3 linked regions of the Homo sapiens genome follow. The protein of the gene in region 3 purifies or fractionates together with the protein of the main gene of each other region. This does not show direct contact. Each region holds a gene or a part of one and is shown on either strand. Other genes may lie near its edges. The genes, in order: PAK1IP1, RPF2 and RRP15.

Region 1 (3,654 bases), on a different chromosome or scaffold from region 3:
TAGCCAGTGTTTAATTTTCTCTTCCTGCATTAGTTTGCTGGGGATAATGGCTTCCAACTCCATCCACATCCCTGCAAAGGACATGATCTCATTCCTTTTTATGGGTGCATAAATCCTATTTTTCTAAGAGTTGCTAATAGATAAGCTTTTTTCTAGGGAAGCAAATGTGGGAAACCAAACTTTCCAAAGTGAGAAATAGGATAATAGGGAGAGGAAAATATGAACAAATGAATGAGAAGTGTGTGGAAATGGATCAAAACAGATCTGAGTGATAAGGATTGGATTGTGGCTGATTGGGTAGCTAATTCACTGTTTAGAAAGTGGAAGTCATGTGGCAGTACACCTGGTTTGTTCCCCAGATTAGCTTGTTAGCTGATTAGTTTTGTTTACTTCTGCTCAAACTATCCTAGCCAGCCACCTCCTAAATTTATAATTTGAAGACATAAAGCAAGGACGTGAACTGATTTGTTCAAATCTGTATCTAAACTGGAGATACTCTGCTGAAAATATTTGCATAGATTTGAACAACTGTACTTACATGAAAAAATTTAAGGTATGTTTTAGTAATATTAAGACATTGAGGCCAGGCACAGTGGCTCACACCTGTAATCCCAGCACTTTGGGAGGCTGAGGTGGGCAGATCACTTGGGCCCAGGAGTTCAAGACCAGCCTGGGCAACATGGCATGGTGAAACACTGTATCTACAAAAAATACAAAAATTAGCTAGGTATATTGATGTGCACCTGTAGTCCCAGTTACTCAGGAGGCTGAGGTGGGAAGATTGCTTGAACCCAGGAGGCAGAGGTTGCAGTGGGATAAGATCATGCCATAGCACTTCAGCCTGGGTAACAAGAGTGAAACCCTGCCTCAAAAAAAAAAAAAAGAAAAAGAAAAAAAGGTATTGAGTGTTTTACTTAGCATAGCATAGCCTTCAAATCAGAAATGGAGTTTGCATTTAAAATGAATATTATTTTTGCCTATTTTGGTTTTTCCATAGGTACAATAACTTGCCTGAAATTCTATGGCAACAGGCATTTAATCAGTGGAGCGGAAGATGGACTCATCTGTATCTGGGATGCAAAGAAATGGGAATGCCTGAAGTCAATTAAAGCTCACAAGTGAGTCGGGCTCTTTCCCTTTGGCATTCTCGATGTGCCAGTCAAGTTGGGGACTAACTTTTGGTTTCATTATAGAGGACAGGTGACCTTCCTTTCTATTCACCCATCTGGCAAGTTGGCCCTGTCGGTTGGTACAGATAAAACTTTAAGGTAAGTCATTAATGCTCAAGAGCATTTATCTAAGGTGTGTGTTTTACTACAGCTCTCCACCATCTAAAAATACTGTTATACAAGGGAAAGGTCAAAAGCTGGTGAACCTTTTCATAGTGGTTCATAGTGGTAGAATGAAAATGACAAGCTCTGTTTTCTTTCTTTTTTTTTTGAGACAGAGTCTCGCTCTGTCTCCCTGCTCTGTCGCCCAGGCTGGAGTGCGGCGGCGTGATCTTGGCTCACTGCAAGCTCCGCCTCCCAGGTTCATGCCATTCTCCTGCCTCAGCCTCCCAAGTAGCTGGAACTACAGGCGCCCACCACCACGCCCGGCTATTTTTTGTATTTTTAGTAGAGACGGGGTTTCACCGTGTTAGCCAGGATGGTCTTGATCTCCTGACCTCATGATCCGCCCGCCTCAGCCTCCGAAAGTGCTGGGATTACAGGCGTGAGCCACCACGCCCAGCCAACAAGCTCCGTTTTCAAACATGCAATTATGCTGCAGTCATCATAGCTGTGAATTGAAGATTTTAGAAAGGGAAACCTTTTGAAAATACAATGGATACGAGATGTTAAAGGGATATGGGAATGAAGCAAGTCTTAATCCTGCCTCATAATATTTCAAAATATTGCTGTAAGGAAGATAGCAGGTCTTCTAAATAGCCAATATTTAGTAAAATGTCACTTAAGTCTTCATTATGCTTGTTCTTTTACGCTTAGTAAAAGTTAGTTGGTGATCACACCGTAAGTGAGCTTCCTGTTTTGCAGAACGTGGAATCTTGTAGAAGGAAGATCAGCATTCATAAAAAATATAAAACAAAGTGAGTATTTTTGTTTGAAATGCAGGTTGAGCATTCCTAATCTGGAAATCTGAAATGCTCCAAAATCTGAAACTTTTTGAGCACTGATGTGGTGCCTCAAGTAGAAAATTCAACACCTTACCTCATGATGGGTCACAGTCAGAACCTTGTTTCATACACAAAATTATTTAAAATATTGTGTAAAATTACCTTCCGGCTAGGTGTATATGAAGCATAGATGAATTTCATGTTTAGACTTGAAACATGAGTTGCATGGGTTTTATCCTCGAGATATTTCATTGTATATATGCAGATATTCCAAAATCCAAAATCGTTCTGGTCCCAAGCATTTTGGATAAGGGATACTCAACCTGTATATTTTACAGTGACTTAATGGAATATGAATATAGATATACATTTTTACATGTGTGTATGTTACACATTTATTTCCCTGCATGGTGGTGGTTACCTCTGAGCAAATGCCTTGGGTTACTTTCTTTTCCCATTTTAGACTAGATTCTTTTTGTGGCTCTGCCACCTGCCTTTGATTTTTATTTTGTTTCATTTTATTTTATTTTATATTTTTTATTTTATTTTATTTTTTGAGATGGAGTCTCGCTCTATCACCCAGGCTGGAGTGCAGTGGCGCTATCTCAGCTCCCTACAACCTCTGCCTTCTGAGTTCGTTATTCTCCTGCCTCACCCTCCCAAGCAGCTGGGATTACAGGCGCGTGCCACCATGCTTGGCTAATTTTTTGTATTTTTTGGTAGAGAGATGGGGTTTCACCATGTTTGCCAGGCTGGTCTCAAACTCCTGGCCTTAAGTGATCCACCCACCTTGGCCTCCCAAAGTGCTGGCATTACAGGTGTGAGCCACTGCACCTGGCCCACCTTTGACTTTTTGAACCTAGATTATTTTCTAAAAAACTTGACTTGTAAAATGTGTTACGAAGATGAAATAGGATAATGAATTTGAAAATGCACAGTATAAATATTTGCTATTTTTATTACTATGATCATTTTATGTTTTATTTACAAAATAAATAAACTTCGTTTTTTTCCACTTACAGATGCTCACATAGTAGAATGGTCCCCAAGAGGAGAGCAGTATGTAGTTATCATACAGAATAAAATAGACATCTATCAGCTTGACACTGCATCCATTAGTGGCACCATCACAAATGAAAAGAGAATTTCCTCTGTTAAATTTCTTTCAGTAAGTAATCAGAAATCATTGACCAAAGTTTGTGGTGATGGTTGGAACTGTTGATGACATTCTGGATGTTATTACTCTTTTTCCTCTCTCCTAGGAGTCTGTCCTTGCAGTGGCTGGAGATGAAGAAGTTATAAGGTTTTTTGACTGTGATTCACTAGTGTGCCTCTGCGAATTTAAAGCTCATGAAAACAGGTATTTTTACCAATCTTTGGTGTATATGTCTAGTCTTAATAAAAGGTATATATGCAGTAGTTTCATAAGCCAGGTTATATGTTTTTATTAACAACTGCAGAAATAATCAGACATATCTACATGTACAGTATATGGTATCTGTAGTCTAATAAGGTGGTGGAAGATGTTATCTTCCTGGCAT
Region 2 (3,654 bases), on a different chromosome or scaffold from region 3:
ATTATACTTTAGGTTATCAAGTTCATAAAGTTATTTATCATACTTCTTGGTCAAAATCCTAACAGTGTATATACCACTTGCATGACGTCTTTCCCAACTAGAAATGATCTTTCTCTCCTCAGAACTTCCAGAATGGTTTATACTGTTCTCCTTTTAATGTGCTACTTTAAATTGCAGTTGTTTGTATGTATTCATATCTACCTAGAATGCAGGGCCCCTGATAGAAAAATGCTATATGTCATTTATCACTTTGCATAATAGGTGCTCTGGTACAATTTATTAAGTGAATGGATTCTTGCCAATGGTATTCATGTGTAAACAATACTCTGTTGTGTTCTAGCCAGAAAATATCATGCTGTTAGACATATTTGCTTTCCGGTTACTAAGTACTACCATTTATGCCCTCCCGTTTTCATTCATTACTTGTTTGTGTTACCTTGATGATTTGCAAACTTTAGTGAAATTTCAGTTTGGCAGTTAAGAGAAAATGTTGTAATAAAAGGATGGCTGGTTAGAACTATTGGATACAGACTGAAAATCCTTTTATATTCATAGTCTTAGAAATTTTGACTTAATAAAGAGTACTTTTCCATGTGCTTATTGTGTTCCTAAAGTTTTCTCCCAAAGCACAGATGTCCTGAAAATTTTGCATTATGAAAGTTGTTTCAGAGCAGACTGGAATGTACATATTTCGTTTCCCAGAAGTACTCTGACTTCAGTAATGCCACACCAATGAGTGAGCTTTATTAACTTGGCCACTGAAGGAGAGTCAGGCTTTGGCAAAATCATGGGAAAGCTCTTTATTATGATATTTAGATTAAAATATCTTGAAAAGTACAAACTTGTTTTATAAAAATGTCCCAGGCCAGGCGTGGTGGCTCAAACCTGTAATCCCAGCACTTTGAGAGACCAAGGCAGGAGGAGTGCTTGAGTCTAGGAGTTCGAAACCAGCCTGGGCAACATAGTGAGACCCCATCCGTACATAATATATGTATAAATATATGTAGTATATGTACTTTTTTTAAATTAAAAATGTTCATTAGTTTTTTTTTTTTCTTGTTTGGGGGAGTAGAGGAGGGTGGTGTATAAATGTGCCTGCCCACTTGTGTTTGTTTTATACAAGTTAATGCTGTGTTTTTTGTTTTTTGGGTTTTTTTTTTTTTGAGACTGAGTCTCACACTGTCGCCCAGGCTGGAGTACAGTGGCGCAATCTCGGCTCACTGCAATCTCCGCCTCCCAGGTTCAAGTGATTCTCCTGCCTCAGCCTCCCAAGTAGCTAGGGAGGCACTTGCCACCACACCTGGCTAATTTTTTGTGGTTTTAGTAGAGATAGGGTTTCACTGTGTTAGCCCCTATGGTCTTGATCTCCTGACCTCATGATCTGCTCGCCTCGGCCTCCCAAAGTGCTGGGATTACAGGCATGAGCCACTGCACCTGGCCTGTGATTTTCTTTTGGTTAAGCACAAGAAAGGAAAAGCAGACAACAAAAGATGCGTTCATCTGTGCACATGGAGATAATCTGCATCTTATGGGCTAATGGGAAGCAGGAAGGAAAATGCTAGGTGGCTACAGAATGGGACTAGAACAGAATTTCCCACTTACTACATCACCTGCCTTGGGCAGCTCTTCCTAAGCAAACTTGGATAAACTTTTATATAGACCTTTTATCTTAGCCAAATGTTATTCATGAATTTCCATTTAGCCTCCTTGAGGTTCGATTTTCTCAGCTGTAAAATTAAGATATCACACTTGTTTTCCAAACTTCTTTCATAGCCAAGTCTGTGTAGTATCCTTAGCGTGCAGTTCACTGGAGATTTTCTTTTAATTGACTCCTCTTTTTAAGTTATTGTTTGAGACAGGGTTTTGCTCTGTCGTTCTCACTGAGTCCAGTGGTGGGATCAGCAATCCTCCCACCTTAGCCTCTCCAGTAGCTGGGACTACAACCTGGCTAATTTTTTATACTTTTAGTGGAGATGAGGTTTCACCATGTTGCCCAGCCTGGCCTCAAACTCCTGAGCTTAAGCAATTCGCCCGCCTCAGTCTCCCAAAGTGCTGGGATGACAGGCATGAGCCACTGTGCATGGCTGACTACTCTTTTTAAAAGGAAATTTTATGTCCCTATTGTAAATGGAGAATGGTACAGGATAAAATAAATACGTAGTAAATTATATCTGGCTTTGTATCATTAAAATGCTCTCATGTGCCACCGGTGGTATGATTACCACTTTGTGAGAAAAAAGACTATCACTGATATGCAAGGTTCTTTTCTGGCATTAACAGTTTATAAAGTTTCTTATCCTTTGTTCATATAATCAAGATTTCTTATTAGAGTTTTTTTCTTGTTGGCCTCCCTCATAGAAAAAAAAATTAAGGCTAATTTGATTTTAATAGTCAATTTGAACAGCCATTTTTATAGAAATTTGCTATCTTCATCTACCAGTAGATTAAAATTTTATGCTTTGATTTACATTTTTTAAAAGTTAGTATTTTTAATGGATATGATTTTTTGATGCTGAGCTGACTCAGAGGAAGAACTTCAAAACAGAAACATTAAATGTCTCAGTGAACTGAACACCAAAATACCAAAATAAAGTCATGAGATTAAATGCTTAAGGGGTGGGACCTTCAGACATTTTTCAGGAATCATTTTTTGTGCTTTTTTAGATAAGTATTGGAGCAAAACTGTTTAGAGTGCAGTTCTTTGTAACTGAATTTTGCAAGTATTTGTTTTGTTTTGTTAATAATTTAATATGTGCTTTTAGATTTCTTCAGAGGCCCCACAGTATCAAATATCCGCCTGGCTGGATTAGAGTATGTTCTGCACTTCACTGCACTGAATGGGAAGATTTACTTTCGAAGCTATAAGTAAGTGCATTTCTTCACATATTTTCTTAATCCTCAGGGTTAGTGTTTAAAACTGTGTGACTGTTTTTTAGAGCCCAAACTTAGAATTGGTATCTGGCCAAAAGGTTTCTTGGAGAGTTGGCAGGATAGCAGTGACAGCAGCTCTGTGCTGATCCTCAGTCCTTTGCCTCTGAAACCCTACTTTTCCAGTGCCCCAGAGCATCTGATGCTGCACTGTCGCTGAGCCAGGTGCACCAACCCTTCCTAGCTTTATGCAGCATCTCTTTATTGTTCTTGGTTGGATTTACAGCACTAAGCCACAAATCCTTGGCTAGGCAAAGCAAATCTCAAAACCCTAAGTCTTAACAATTGAGTCTAAAAGGAATAAGAAGATTCAGTGGCTAGATTCATTTCACTCTGTCTCTCTAGCCTAGGCCTTCTACCCCTACCACAATATAAATATAAATCTTAAGCAGGCCGAGCATGGTGGCTCACACCTGTAATCTCAGCACTTTGGGAGGCTGAGGCAGGCAGATCACTTGAGGCCAGGAGTTCAAAACCAGCCTGGCCAACATGACGAAACCCCATCTCTACTAAAAAAAACCAGAAAAATTAGCCCAGCGTGGTGGCACATGCCTGTAGTTCCAGCTGCTCAGAAGGCTGAGGCACAAAAATCGCTTGAACCTGGGAGGTGGAAGTTGCAGTGAGCCATGATTGTGCCACTGCACTCCAGCCTGGGCAACAGAGTGAGGGCGCTGAAAAAACAAAAAACAAAAAACTCTTAAGCAGATTCTATGTTTATTAAAGAGT
Region 3 (3,654 bases):
TATTTTTCAAAAAGAAAGTATTCAATTTTGCAAACAGGCAACTTTCATGTGAGCTTATAGCACCATAGGTTTTGGGCATACTACACTGTTAGAGGAATTGGATAATAACAATAGTTATACTTTTGGAACTTTCCTATGTGCCTGGTTCTGTTCTGAGTTCCTTCTATATATCAGCTCAGAGAATTCTGACAACTCTATGAGATAGATGCTGCTATTATCCTCCTGTTACATTTAAAAAACTGAGGCACAGAGGCTTATAACTTGCCCACTTCTGTACATAAGCAGATAAGCAAGTTGATAAATGATACAACAATTATTGAAGTTTGATTGTAGAGCTTATGCTCTTGACCACTACCTTAATATGTTTGAGGAATCAGGAGGACATAGATAATTTTAAAAAGTATCTGGAAAGTGAAAGCGTTGGGCCTTTGAATCTAAGGAAAGAAAGGATTGGGGACAAGGAGACTTTGGTATGGAGACAAACTTTTCTCCCTCCCACTCAAGAAGATTTCATCACCAAGGGACATTTTTGTGTTCAGATTTCTATAGCACTTCCAATGTTTATAACCAGAGTATTCTTTCCTTCCTTCCTTTCTCCTAAAATCCATATGTTATTTCTGGAAGCAAATTCCCCTGTTCACTCAATTGTATAAGAGGCACCTGTGATGGTACTACCTTTCAGAGTGACTTTGTGCTAGTTATTATTATCTACCCCAATTTCCTCATCTACAAAATGAGGATAATAATAATGTCTACTTTAGGATTGTTGTAACAATTAAATGAGTTTATATATGGTAAGCATTTAATATTTGGCACATGGTACCCACTCATAAATATTAGTGATGACGATGATGTCTCTTCTGACCTAAAAAAACTGCTAGTCCCATCTCTTTTTGCCAAATAAGTTTTCCCACCTTTGGTAATGTGGTATTTGTAAGCTGGAGCTCTCCCCAGAAAAGAGGTTTGAATTATTCTAGTAACCCTGTAAGGTAGCTGATGGCATTTCTATTTTACAGATAAGAAAAGAAGCTTGGAAATAGTGCTTCCAGTATATCATATTGCTTCCTAGTAGAAAACTGTTACCTCCATAGGTGCAAGATGTTATCTGTTATTCCACTCGTTTTATTCCATAATCTAACCATTAGATCATATATTTTTGGTAAAATTCAAGATCAGTGATAACGATGTTGATAACAATTGATTGTGTCTGCTTGGTTATGCCATAGACACATTTTCTTTGCCAAAGCTGCTTCTGTCTCTAAGAAAGACACTGCCATCTACTCCCATCCAAGCTGGAAACACAAGTGTCATCCTTTAGTCTTCCTGTTGCTTCCATATCTATTTGGTTTAATTAATCCATTTATTCTGTTGCCACTACTTTAGTTCTTGCCCGCATCTCTCTCTCTCTCTTTTTTGAGATGGAGTTTTGCTCTTGTTGCCCAGGCTGGAGTGCAATGGTATGATCTCAGGTCACCCCAACCTCCACCTCCAGGGTTCAAGTGATTCTTCTGCCTCAGCCTCCCAAGTAGCTGGGATTACAGGCATGCACCACCACACCCAGCTAATTTTGTATTTTTAGTAGAGACAGAGTTTCTCCATGTTGGTCAGGCTGGTCTTGAACTCCTGACCTCAGGTGATCCACCCACCTTGGCCTCCCAAAGTGCTGGGATTACAGGCATGAGCCACTGTGCCTGGCCTTGCCTGCATCTCTTTTGTTTACATTAGTTCATAGGGTACCTATCTGTTGGGCCTGTCATTGCAGCCTTACTCCCTTCAGTCTTCTAGGCAATTGCTTCTTTAACCATCAATGTTGAAGGACCATTCTGAGTTTTGTTTTTTAATCTCCAATCTGTAATAGACAGGTGTTTTTTTTAAAAAAAATCAATGAAAAAGAGTAACTGGAAACATGACCACATTGTTGGACATCATGGTAATATCAAATTACTATAAATGTTTATAAATACTTACTCTCAATTTGTGAATTCGCAGTTGATTCTAGTTACAGTAATGTTCAGTAAAGTTGCAGGAAACCCTGAATCCCTGAATTAGTGAACCATTGCTTCTAGAGGAAATACAGTTTTAGGCTCCTGTGAGCCTCTGGTCAGAACATTTTTGTCATTTTATCAATACATAACCTTGTCTTATGTGGATTTTTTTTGGGTTTTTTGTTTGTTTGTTTGTTTTTGTTTTTGTTTTCTGAAACAAGATCTGGCTCTATTACCCAGGCTGCTGGAGTGCAGTGGTGCAATCTTGGCTCACTGCAACCTCTGCCTGTTAGGCTCAAGCCATCCTCCCACCTCAGCCTCTGGATTAGCTGGGACTATAGGCGTACACTACCCACACCTGGCTGATTTTTGTATTTTTGGAAGAGATGAGGTTTTGCCATGTTGCTCAGACTGGTCTTGAACTCATGAGCTCAATTGATCTGCCTGCCTTGGCCTCCCAAAGTGCTGGGATTACAGGCATGAGCCACTGCTCCCAGCCTTATGTGTGTTTTTGTTTGAAGACAAAGAAGAGCTCCACTTGAAATGGTTTTCAGAAAGAAAGTGTTTGATTTTCCTTGGCCACATGCGGGGGGCATACATCTGTAATCTCAGCACTTTGGAGGCTGAGGTGGGAGGATTGCTTGAACCCAGGAGTCTGAGGCCAGCCTAGGCAACATAGTGAGACCCCGTCACTACAAAAAAAATGGAAAAAACTAGCTGGATATGGTGGTGTGTGCCGTGTGCCTGTAATCCCAGCTACTTGGGAGGCTAAGGTGGGAGGGTTGCTTGAGCCTGGGAGTTCGAGACTGCAGTGAGCTGTGACTGTGCCACTGTACTCCAGCCTGGGTGACACAGCATGACCCTGTCCCAAAAAATAAAAAATTTAGACTGGACATGGTGGCTCACACCTGTAATCCCAGCACTTTGGGAGGCCAAGGTGGGCAGATCACTTAAAGTCAGGAATTTGAGACCAGCCTGGCTAACATGGCAAAACCCATCTCTACCAAAAAAAAAATATACAAAAAATTAGCCCAACATGGTGGTGTATGCCTGTAGTGCCAGCTACTTGTGAGGCTAAGGCATAAGAATCACTTGAACCTGGGAGGCAGAGGTTGCAGTGGGCCAAGATTGTGCCACTGCACTCCAGCCTGGCTGACAGAGTGAGACTCTGTCTCAAAAATGAATAAATAAATTTTAAAAACAAAACTCTGAGATTAAAGAAAAAGGAAAAAAAAAAGAAAGAAATCATTGAATTTTCCTTTTTTTTTTTTTTTTTTTTTTGAGATGGAGTCTCGTTCTGTTGCCAGGCTGGAGTACAGTGGTGCTATCTCGGTTCACCACAACCTCCGCCTCCCAGGTTCAAGCAATTCTTCTGCCTCAGCCTTCCGAGTAGCTGGTACTACAGGCACGTGCCACCACGCCCGGCTAATTTTTGTATTTTTAGTAGAGACGGGGTTTCAACATGTTGGCCAGGATAGTCTGGATCTCTTGACCTCATGATACACCCACCTTGGTCTCCCAAAGTGTTGGGATTACAGGCGTGAGCCACCGCGGCTGGCCCCCCACTCCCCACCCCCTTTTTTTTTAAGACAAAGTCTTGGTCTGTTGCCTAGGCTGGAGTGCAGTGGCATAATCAGAGCTCTCTGCAGTCTTAACCTCCCAGGCTCAA

The links.
Region 1: the proteins of RRP15 (region 3) and PAK1IP1 fractionate together in Homo sapiens (co-fractionation; one large-scale study listed by BioGRID). This does not show direct contact.
Region 2: the proteins of RRP15 (region 3) and RPF2 fractionate together in Homo sapiens (co-fractionation; one large-scale study listed by BioGRID). This does not show direct contact.

Annotation. Positions count from the first base shown.
Region 1 is NC_000006.12:10,701,372-10,705,025, forward strand, and holds part of PAK1IP1 (p21-activated protein kinase-interacting protein 1), read left to right. Parts: intron 1-997; coding exon 998-1,118; intron 1,119-1,193; coding exon 1,194-1,268; intron 1,269-2,033; coding exon 2,034-2,086; intron 2,087-3,135; coding exon 3,136-3,281; intron 3,282-3,375; coding exon 3,376-3,473; intron 3,474-3,654. UniProt on the Homo sapiens protein: Negatively regulates the PAK1 kinase. PAK1 is a member of the PAK kinase family, which has been shown to play a positive role in the regulation of signaling pathways involving MAPK8 and RELA.
Region 2 is NC_000006.12:111,012,992-111,016,645, forward strand, and holds part of RPF2 (ribosome production factor 2 homolog), read left to right. Parts: exon of another isoform or gene 1-597; intron 598-2,762; coding exon 2,763-2,865; intron 2,866-3,654. UniProt on the Homo sapiens protein: Involved in ribosomal large subunit assembly. May regulate the localization of the 5S RNP/5S ribonucleoprotein particle to the nucleolus.
Region 3 is NC_000001.11:218,288,285-218,291,938, forward strand, and holds part of RRP15 (RRP15-like protein), read left to right. Parts: intron 1-3,654.